2 separate regions of the Homo sapiens genome follow, and region 1 is linked to region 2. Evidence: fine-mapped QTL for protein levels in blood plasma. Region 2 holds a variant in brackets. A gene starts in the other region. All regions are shown on their reverse strands.

Region 1 (5,349 bases), not on the chromosome of region 2:
AAAATATTTTCTTTTTTTGATATACTCATAGAATAGCTCAGGAGACAGCTGGGAAATAGCTCTTTGCAGTACTATGAAATAAGCTAATATACTTCTCTTAAACATTTATTTCTATCTTCACGCCATGGGGATTATCTAGCTCTGAACCAGTGTCACAGGGAAAGAGATGTTTGAGTTGGTTCAGGAAGATGGGTCTCTGCTGTCATGAGGCCAGCTCTATGTGATTCATGCAACTGGTTGTTGTGAAGGTCCAAATTCACCATTTGGTGAAGCTATTTACAAAGGCGTAGTAATTATGAAGACTTCTTCTACAAGTAACAAAAGCTCAGAGACAAAACTGTTTAAATAAGAATGGAATTTATTAACTAACATAATATAAATTTTTGAAATAAAGTGGCCTTCAGTTCCTTCCACGTTTCTGCTCTGCTATCCTCAGTTCTGGCCCCATCTTTGAGGAGGTAACACAATGGATGCAGCACTTGTAAATATCACGTGAGATAGAAAAATGTGTAGAGGCAAAAGAGAGACTGTCTCTCCCTTTGGTTCTCTCCTAGGGGTGGGGAATTTTACAGAAGCCAGAATTTTTATTTTATTTTATTTTAAGTTCTGGGATACATGTGCAGAACGTACAGGTTTGTTATATAAGTAAATGTGTGCCATGGTGGTTTGCTGCACCTATCAACCCATCACGTAGGTATTAAGCCCCACATGCATTAGCTATTTATCCTGATGCTCTCCCTCCCCCCATAGCCCTGGCCCCAACAGGCTCCAGTGTGCATTGTTCTCCTCCTTGTGTCCATGTGTTCTTACTGTTCAGCTCCCACTTATAAGTGAGAACATGAGGTGTTTTTCTCTTCCTGCGTTAGTTTGCTGAGGATAATTGAAACCAGAAATCTGATGTTAGCTTTTGTCTCATGGGCCAACTGAGTTCTAAACGGACCACAGGAATATCATTCTATGACAGGAGAATCAAAACAACAAGGAAGATTATGCTGATGGGAGACCTTTGCTACACTACCCAGCTGGCCAACAGGCATAGCAATGTATGCTTGCTTTCTTTAAAGCAGAGAGTGCATACACATCTCGAACCAGTTAAGCAAACGTTTAACAACTTGCTCTATATTTGAACATCACCTCTGAATGCACTTTCAACTGCTGAGGCACTTATTTTGAGCTTGGGTCTTAGTTTCCTGAAATTAACTCCAGGATTTTCACTTACCCTGTTTTGCACTGTAGATAATTTAATAATTGTCCCACCCATAAAGATATCACATTATATGTTTCTTCTTTATATGTTTTCATCAAAAGCCATCCTTTATTCCACTTAAGTTATTGTTTTACAGTACCAAAATATCAACCTCCTGTTTATTTTGTTCACAAACAATATTTTCTGAATTAAATAAATACTTCATACAAAGCAGGTAAAAATATAAATATTCTTCTTCTGGTCCCTGACACTAACTTTCCAACATCTTCTAAAGTTAACTGGAGTTCAAAACCGTAATGTAAATCAACAGCTACTGAATCTACTCCTTCTTACTAAACTCAGTACCTGCAAAGTCCACTTCCATTATTGGGGTTGCAGAAGATGGTTTCAGAAGTAATGGCACAGAGATTGAAACCATTTGCTGCCTTTGTCTTTCTTTTAGAATGCAGATTCCAAACATCTTTTTCTATATGAAACTTGCCAAAATTTTTTCTTATAATTTAAAATATCTTTTAATGTAGAGTTTACTTTGTAAGCCTGAAAGACGAATTTTGTAGGCATTCGCTCTGCTTCCTTTTCAGAGCTTAAATCATATACTATTATCCAATGATAATTGTCACCTTTCTTTCCTGTCCTCAATTACCTTCGATTAACAACAATGATAATATATTAATAATACCCTCCATTTCCCTCCAAGCAATTATAGGCATTTTAGTTACATTAACTAATATCAACCCATCAACCCTGTAAGGAAGGGAAGGGAAGATATTATTTTAATGAAGAGGATGTTTGAGCACTGTGACTTACCCAAACAAAAAACAGCTGAGGTGGACCAAGCAAGGATTTCTTGTCTTAGGTAGGAAAACATCTCAGCCAGGTGTTTATCAATTTGTCAGGATATTCCTCCAGGGTTGACTCAGTATTCATTGTTCAAAAAGCTGATGTCTATTGAAGATTGTCTCCGTTCCACAAGTAATATTTGTCAGGTGACTTGGGTGTAAATCTTTTTGCTAGAAGCTAAAATCATTGACCAGAATTTAATTTTACATGCTAATTTTCTGTCTCTTAATTTGGAGGTAAATAAAATGAGTCAAATGCTGGTGCCTAGAATCTTTAGTCTTGCTGCTGTTGCCCATTGGCCATTTCAGAAGAGTCACGTGATGAAGACGCTCTTTAAATTAAACTACTGGCAGCACCGTAATGCCTATATTTCTTTGGTTTTCAATTACGAGTGGCTCTTCTCAGCAAGTGTTCCATGATGGTTGAGCCCTTCTTGGGAACCTGGAAGCTGGTCTCCAGTGAAAACTTTGAGGATTACATGAAAGAACTGGGTGAGAAATACCATTACAAATTTGGAAATTGGCAAAGCATTTTGTGATGTGATTGGGTTTGTACTTTACCATGAATTTTCCTACAATTATCTTCCTTTTGTGATCCTAGGGTATATAGACTAACACAATGTATGCTTCTACTTTTGCTTTTTTAAATTACTAGTAATAATTGTCTCTTTTTGGAAGACTAGGCCCACAGACACCTCTGTCCAGTCATGATCCATATATTTAAGCCCATTTATCCTTTTTGAAAATACTTCACCTAACTTCTAGATAGAATTTCATTTTAGCTTGGTCATTTCATTTAATAACATTTTTCCCAGCTTCAAATTTATAGACAGTAATCACTACCTACAATTAAATTGATCAATTAAATTTGTTTCAAGGTTTAAGTTATAGCTTTAAAACAGCAGTATCAACTAACAAAATTTCTAGTTGGTTAATTTTTAGAGTTCTCATAAATGTGAGAGATATTTTATAAACATGGTTTTGAAGAATTACAAATCTGAAGAAACACAACATTTTTACTCATTGAATGTCTCACCACTGGATATTCCTCAGAATTATAAACCCTACCAATCCTTTAATCTCTAACTCAAGTCATTTAGTTACACATTAATTATAATGACTTGGGTGTATAATAGCTAAACTGTTCTTTACTAATGGAAGAACAGCAATTATTTCATATTTTTCATATTTAATTAAGAGAAACCTCCCTTGTAGTAAACTGTATACAAAGCCAAGGACTTTCTTATCTTTACTTTTTTTTAACTTACATAACATGCTTAATGGATGCTTACAATTATTAATTATGTTTACTCATTCTAGACAATGAAATAACAATGCCTTATCCCCATAATAAGTCAATGTGCTTATAAATGTAATATTTGTTCCTCTGATGTAGTCAATATTCACTTTCTCAGAGGGTCATAAGAAACAAGTTTTTCTGTCTCTTCATAGATTTATAGACTCACTTGTTTTGAATAAAAATTGGGGGGGTATATAAAAAACTTGGGCCTTATGGCCAGAGTAGCACTTGTGTTGACTGGGAGCTGGGTTTAGGCATAATACAAGCAAGAATAACAGCTGAGCAGTTTCTATGTGCCAGTACCATGCTAACCCCTTTCATTTAACCTTTTAAAACATCCGCTGGCTGGGTACAGTGGCTCAGGCCTCCAATCCCAGCACTTTGGGAGGCCAAGGCAGGTGGATCACCTGAGGTCAGGAGTTCGAGATCAGCCTGGCCAACATGGTGAAACCCCATCTCTACTAAAAATACAAAAATTAGCTGGGCATGGTGGCATGTGCCTGTAATCCCAGCTACTCGGGGGGCTGAGGCAGGAGAATCGCTTGAACTTGGGAGGCAGAGGTTGCAGTGAGCTGAGATTGTGCCACTGCACTCCAGCCTGGGCAACATAGCGAGACTCTGTCTCAAAACAAAAAACAAACAAACAAACAAACAAAAAAAAAACTTGCGAGGTCAAGTATACAGTTATCCACACTTTACTATTGAGAAAACTGAAGGTTAGGAGAGGTAAATAATATGCCCAAGCTAGCAAGTGGCCAAGTTAGAGCCTGGGTTTTAACCATCTCACTCTTCTTTGTGATGCAGATGTCTAACACTGCTTCTCTACAGTAAGATGTGTCATATCAGTTCCACAATCTAAATGTGAAATGGAGTTTGATATCAGGACAGAGAAGGAGTCAGCTCTTCTGCCCACCAACTGCAGGAGTCAAGTTTGACAATGGGAAATTCCCAACCAAACCACAGGGCCAGGCTCTAAGTCAAACTCCTCCCGCACCCACAAGGTTATCGTAACACTCCACAAGGTGAAGTGCAAGCATTTGATCTCTTGAAAGGCACCATACAAATTTACATTTTAGAGGAAGTGTAATAGTCTCAGAGAGTGAATTTAGCTTTTCAAAATGTCACATATATACCTTATGACTGGGAGGATCTAGCTCAGCCCTGATATCACAGAAAACATAAAATAAGTTACTATACATTATCCAAAATTTCAAAATAGGTAAAGTAAGCATTCTTTGAAAATTGACTTCCAGAGTGATTGTTAACAATGTCTTAATAAGGTCCAAGGCTATCTCTGTCTTGTAGGAGTGAATTTCGCAGCCCGGAACATGGCAGGGTTAGTGAAACCGACAGTAACTATTAGTGTTGATGGGAAAATGATGACCATAAGAACAGAAAGTTCTTTCCAGGACACTAAGATCTCCTTCAAGCTGGGGGAAGAATTTGATGAAACTACAGCAGACAACCGGAAAGTAAAGGTCAGAACTAATTCTTCCTGGTGTTCAACAATCAGGAAAAAGTTAGAAGGTGGTTAGGCATGGTTTACTGTAATTTGATTTATCACCAAGTCTGTCTGGGCTTGTTCTGTTAATAGTCGCACATCTCTAAAGTTAATCCTTTTGCTAATTATTTTGATGGTTAACAATAGGGCTAAAAGATTCAAATTGTTTTCATTTCATTTTTTCTTATCTCTTTGTCATATGAAAGAGCACATAGAAAGAAACAACTAAACACAAATAGCTTATGCATTGTTTGCCTAGGAAAGAGCACTAATTGAATAATCTCTTGAGACTTCTAGTTTGATAGTACTACATCATGACAACAAAAGTGAGGATTTTAAGAAAAGAATTTCAAAATAGAAATTAAAAAGTAGATATGTGGTCTCATGTAGGTTAGAAGGTAGTGAGTTGCTACTTCTGATTTCTTTATGCATTTATAGAGCACCATAACATTAGAGAATGGCTCAATGATTCACGTCCAAAAATGGCTTGGCAAAGAGACAA
Region 2 (5,316 bases):
TGGCAGAGCCAGGATCCCAACCCTGGCCTGTGTGACCCTGAGCCTCCAAGTCACACCAGCTCATCTACTGTGCAGGAGCAAGGCTCTGTTTCATGGAGGACAGGGGCCTGGGGTGACTCTTCCCCTCCCAGGGAAAGAGCCTTAGAATAATTACAACAATAACAAGAATAGCCAGGCGCGGTGGCTCATGCCTGTAATCTGAGCACTTTGGGAGGCTGAGGCAGGCAGATCACTTGAGGTGAGGAGTTCGAGACCAGCCTGGCCAACATGGTGAAACTCCGTCTCTACTAAAAATACAAAATGAGCTGGGCATGATGGCGCACACCTATAATCCTAGCTACTCAGGAGGCTGAGGCAGGAGAATTGCATGAACCTGGGAGGCAGAGGTTGCAGTGAGCTGAGATTGCGTCACTGCACTCCAGTCTGGGCAACAGAGTGAGACTTCATCTTAAAAACAAAAACCAAAAACCAATAATAGCTGCTATTGACTGGTGCTAGCCAGACCTGGCCGGGCCCTATGCTGTGTGTTTTACAAGCATTCTCTCTTATGCTAACCCTGTTTACAGAGCAGGAAATGGAGGTCCAGAGAGGCCAAGTCAGTTTCTCCAGGTCTCACAGTGAGGAAGGGTGGAGCAGGGAATGGAGTGTAAGCCACACTGGCCCTGGCGACTCACCTTTGGTTCTGCTGGAGCTTTTCAGTTCTAATGTACCAGCCACGGAAATTGCCTGCAGGTTGGGGAGCAAAGGGTTAGGACACCCCAACGCTGGAGGACCCTCCCCACCCTCAGCAACCTGGCCCTCCAAGCACTTACCCAGAGTTTCCAGGGGTCGCTGGGTGGGACCAGTAGGGGGTGCTGGCTCATAAATGTTGATGCCTGAAATGGACAGGTGAGTGGAGCCTCTGGGCAGCCCCTCCATCTTCCACCGCCTCACCCCTCCCTACCCGCAGGGCTATACACTGGAAGGGCAGGAATCTGTGCCAGGTCAGGGAAGCCCGGCAGGGATGAGTGAGTCAGGGCTCTGGGCTGGGGAGAGGGCAATGCCAGGGGTAAGTGGGGTGTGGTGAGACAGACAGAGACAGAGGGACAGAGAGAAGAACCCAGAGAAAGAGACAGGCCAAGAGTTTGAAACCAGCCCAGCCTGGCCAACATGACGAAACCCTGTGTCTACTAAAAATACAAAAATTAGCCAGGCATGGTGGTGCATGCCTGTAATCCCAGCTACTCGGGAGACTGAGGCAGGAGAATTGCCTGAGCCTGGGAGGCGGAGGTTGCAGTGAGCTGAGATTGCACCACTGCATTCCAGCCTGGGCGACAGCAAGACTCCGTCTCAAGAGACAGAAACATAGGCAGAGGGGGAGAGAGAGAGGAGGAGAGAGAAAGAGAGATGGAGAGGTGTGAGGGAGAGGTGTGAGAGAGGTAGGTAAGAGACATGACAGAGAGACAGGTGGTAAAATGGAGAGGCACAATGACAGAAAAAGAGACAGAGGGATGCAGAGAAATGCATAGACAGAGAGAGACAAAGAGGTAGAGAGATAAGGAAACAGGGAAAGAGGAAGAGACAGACGGTCAGGGTGGTGCCTCCTGGCTGCTCTGGGCCCTTGCGCACCTTCGGGGTTGGGCGAGCGCAGCAGGTTGCGGTAGAGCGGCCGCCGCAACAGGAGCAGCTTCCAGGTGAGGCGCTGGGGCAGCTCCAGGCCCCCGCTCAGCGGCCCCCACTCCTCCAGCAGCAGCTGCCGGGCGTGAGCCTCGGACGGCTGCGCCGGCTCGGGGAGCTCGGGGGCCTCCGGGGCTGCGGGCGATGGCAGCGACGGCGGCGAGGGCAGTGGTGGCGGCGACGGCGGCGGTGAAGGCGACCGTGGCGAGGGAGGCAGCTCCTGGAGGCTCGCGGGCCCATCGGCTTCCATCCCGCCACCGAGCGCGTGTCCCTCACGCACCTCCTCCATCCCTCGAGGCTGCGCGACTGTCCCGGTTTCACAGGGCTGGGGTTAACTGGGAGCGGGAAGGGGCAGGGCACCCTGGCTGACATTTAAGAGAGGGGCGTGTCGGGGGAGGATCTTGTCCCTCGGACCCTCCTCCCTCAGACCCAGGAGTCCAGGCCCCTAGCCCCTCCTCCCTCAGACCCAGGAATTCAAGACCCCAGCCCCTCCTCCCTCAGACCCAGGAGTCCAGGCCCCTAGCCCCTCCTCCCTCAGACCCAGGAATTCAAGACCCCAGCCCCTCCTCCCTCAGACCCAGGAGTCCAGGCACCAGCCCCTCTTCCCGCAGACCCAGGAATCCAGGCCCCCAGTCCGTCCTCCCTCAGATCCAGGAGTCCAGGCACCAGCCCCTCCTTCTTCAGACCCAGAAGTCCAGGCACCAGCCCCCTCCTTAGGTCCCCAGACTTCCTGCCCCAATTTTCCCAGGGCCAGCTGAGGACCCAGCGTGAGCCTGACAGAGCGTGTGAC[T/A]AATGTGCTAATGCCAGGGCTCCGGGCTGTCTAATGGGACCCGTGCACCTCATTAAGATCCAGCATGGCAGGATTAAGAGGCTAATTAACGAAGACCCCCCTCCTCCCCCTCCCCACTCTGCAGAGGGGGAGTGGATGGATGAGCTGAGGTGCAAAGGGAAGGTCCTGCCTCTGCCACTTCCTTCTCTGTCCTCACCTGGGACACCCCCTTGGGGCCCTGACACATACTGTCCAGAAAACCAAGGTGAGGAGAGCAGAGAGACACCCAAAACCAGAGATGAGGAGCCTCAGAGATGGGGGACCCCAGGGAGGCACAAAGATGGCAGTGAGAGGGAAGCAGTGATCCCAACTGGGTGTTCTGGGGGCCTGCACCCCTGCCTGGGACTGGGGTGGGGGGCTGCAGAAGCCTCCCCCATCAGAGGTCACGAGGAGGTGGGAGCAAGGGACGGGGCACAGGTGGGGACAGGAGGTCAGGTGTGGAGGAAGTGGGGTGGCAGAGGAACCTGTAGCGCCAGATTCCCACAGCCACTTCCTGCCCGTGGCCACATCCCTCTACCTGGCCCAGGTAAGCTCAGCACTGAGCGCTTGCTTCTCTCTCTCTCTCTCTCTCTGATGGAGTCTCACTCTGTCACCCAGGCTGAAGTGCAGAAGCACGATCTCAGCTCACTGCAACCTCCGCCTCCCGGGTTGAAGTGATTCTCCTGCCTCAGCCTCCCGAGTAGCTGGGATTACAGGCATGTGCCACCACACCCAGCTAATTTTGTAGTTTTAGAAGAGACGAGGTTTCACCCTCTTGATCAGACTGGTCTCAAACTCCTGACCTCAAGTGATCCACCTGCCTTGGCCTCCCAAAGTGCTGGGATTACAGGCGTGAGTGCTTTCTACTGAGCGCCTCTAAGTTCATTTCATTCTCCTACAAAGACAAGGTGGGTGCTACTATGACTGGCATTTTATAGGTAAAGGAAAAGTAACAGCAAACATGTGTGTGCAGCTGTGTGCTGGCGGATGCCCTCTGGGACGGGTCTTTCCAATACAACAACCCTGTGAGGGGTGCCATGGAAACAGAAGCTGCCTTCCCAGGCTGGGTCCCATATAGTCCCAGATAACTCCACATGCTTTCACAGGCACTTCCTGCCCCAACGCTCAGACACTCACAGACACTCAGCGGGTGGGGGACAGAAGTCACGCCCCAGTGATAATGATCATGTAATTGAGGCTGCCCTCATGCCAGGCATTGCACTAAGTCCATTAGTTGCAATGGACTTAGGTAATTAATTAGGCAATTAATTCAGTCTCCACATCCACCCTAGGAAGTAGCATGACTAGGAAGTCATGTGCATTTAGCAGATGAAGAAACTAGGCACAGAGAGGTCTAGTAACTCACCCAAGGTTGCACAGCTGGTACACAACGAGTTAGACACACTCGCATACAGAATCTTAGAGAACATACACAGGGACACAGATTCAAATTGCCCCCAAGGGCTGAGTGTGGTGGCTCACACCGGTAATCTAACACTTTGGGAGGCTGAGGCAGGAAGATCACTTGAACCCACGAGTTTGAGACCAGCCTGGGCAACATGGCAAGACCCCATCTCTACAAAAAAATTAATAAATTATCTCAGTTTGGTGGAACACACCTGTGGTCCCAGCTACTCAAGAGGCTGAGGTGGGAGGATCGCTTGAGCCCAGGAGGTCAAAGTTGCAGTGACCTGAGATCGCATCACTGCATTTTAGCCTGGGTGACAGAATGAGATCCTGTCTCAAAGAAACAAAAAACAAAAACAGGCCAGGCGCAGTGGCTCACACCTGTAATCTTAGCACTTTGGGAGGCCAAGGCAGGCGGATCACTTGAGGTCAGGAGTTCAAGACCAGCCTGGCTAACATGGTGAAACCCCCATCTCTACTAAAAAAAAAAAAAAATACAAAAAAAAAAAAAATTAGCTGGGCATGGTGGTGCGTGCCTGTAGTCCCAGCTACTCGGGAGGCTGAGGCCGGAGAATCGCTTGAATCCAGGAGGCAGAGGTTGCAGTGAACTGAGATCGTGCCACTGCACTCCAGGCTGGGCAACAGAGCAAGACTCCATCTCAAAAACAAAACAAAACAAAAAACAAATCGCCCCTGGGAAGAAACATGGGCTCATACAGAAGCAAGCAGGAGATGATGGTTACATTTATTGAGTCTTGGACTCTTTGAACCTCACAACCCTGCAGAGTTGGGAACTGGTAATTGTATCTCTATTGACAGATCAGGGAACTGAGGCAAGAGAGGTGAAGTGACTGCCCTGGAAAGTTGGGAATTAACCAGTGCCCAGCGGGTGGGGAAAAACCAGGGGAGGGAGCAGATCAACAAATACTGCACCTGGAAGTCCCCAGCAGATTCCCAGGCAAACACTGGCAGAGCTCACAACACACGCACGACCAGACACTCCCACCACCACCACACGCACACAAACCCACGCCCTTGTCCTGGCTGCCCACCCTCCCTGCCTGAGACCTGTCATCGCCATGGGGGAGGAGGAGAAGGAGAAGGAGGGGTGTCTGGTGAGTGTAGTCAGAGCTGTGCCCAGGTCAGAATCCAGGGCAGGGAGTGGCTGGGAGCCGGAGGAGACTAGGACAGAAGGGCAGCCAGGAGTCTGTAGAGTGGCTGGATGCGGTGGCTTGTGCCTGTAATCTCAGCACTTTGGGAAGCTGAGGCGGGCAGATCACTTGAGCCTAGGAGTTGGATACCAGCCTGGGCAACGTGGTGAGACCTCGTTAGCCAGGCGTGGTGGCACATGCCTGTAGTCCCAGCTACTTGGGAGGATGAGGCAGGAGGATTGTTTGAGCCTGGGAGGTGGAGGTTGCAGTGATCTGAGATGGCGCCGCCACTGC

Which allele goes with the higher level. Alleles are on the strand shown, and positions count from the first base shown. The strength of an association depends on the size of the effect and on how common the allele is.
For the plasma level of the protein whose gene starts at base 2,410 in region 1, A is the low allele of the variant in region 2 and T is the other (moderate association).

The links. PIP is the posterior inclusion probability: the model's chance that the variant is causal. The UK Biobank Pharma Proteomics Project read protein levels with antibody pairs (Olink). The fine-mapping took linkage between variants from a reference panel, not from the people measured, so its PIPs are less certain.
Region 1: it holds the start of FABP9, and the variant in region 2 is fine-mapped to the plasma level of the FABP9 protein (UK Biobank, PIP above 0.99).

Annotation. Positions count from the first base shown.
Region 1 is chr8:81,458,640-81,463,988 of GRCh38, reverse strand. It overlaps FABP9 (fatty acid binding protein 9), which reads left to right and starts at 2,410. Exons shown (of 4, transcript NM_001080526.2): 1 at 2,410-2,538; 2 at 4,652-4,824; 3 at 5,286-5,349. The coding sequence starts at 2,466. It overlaps LOC101927118 (a long non-coding RNA gene), which reads right to left and starts at 2,531. Exons shown (of 9, transcript XR_001745980.2): 1 at 2,015-2,531.
Region 2 is chr19:39,193,612-39,198,927 of GRCh38, reverse strand. NCCRP1 (NCCRP1, F-box associated domain containing) reads right to left here and starts at 1,964. Exons shown (of 6, transcript NM_001001414.2): 1 at 1,609-1,964; 2 at 813-875; 3 at 675-726. The coding sequence starts at 1,945. The variant T/A (reference allele first, on the strand shown) is at 2,447.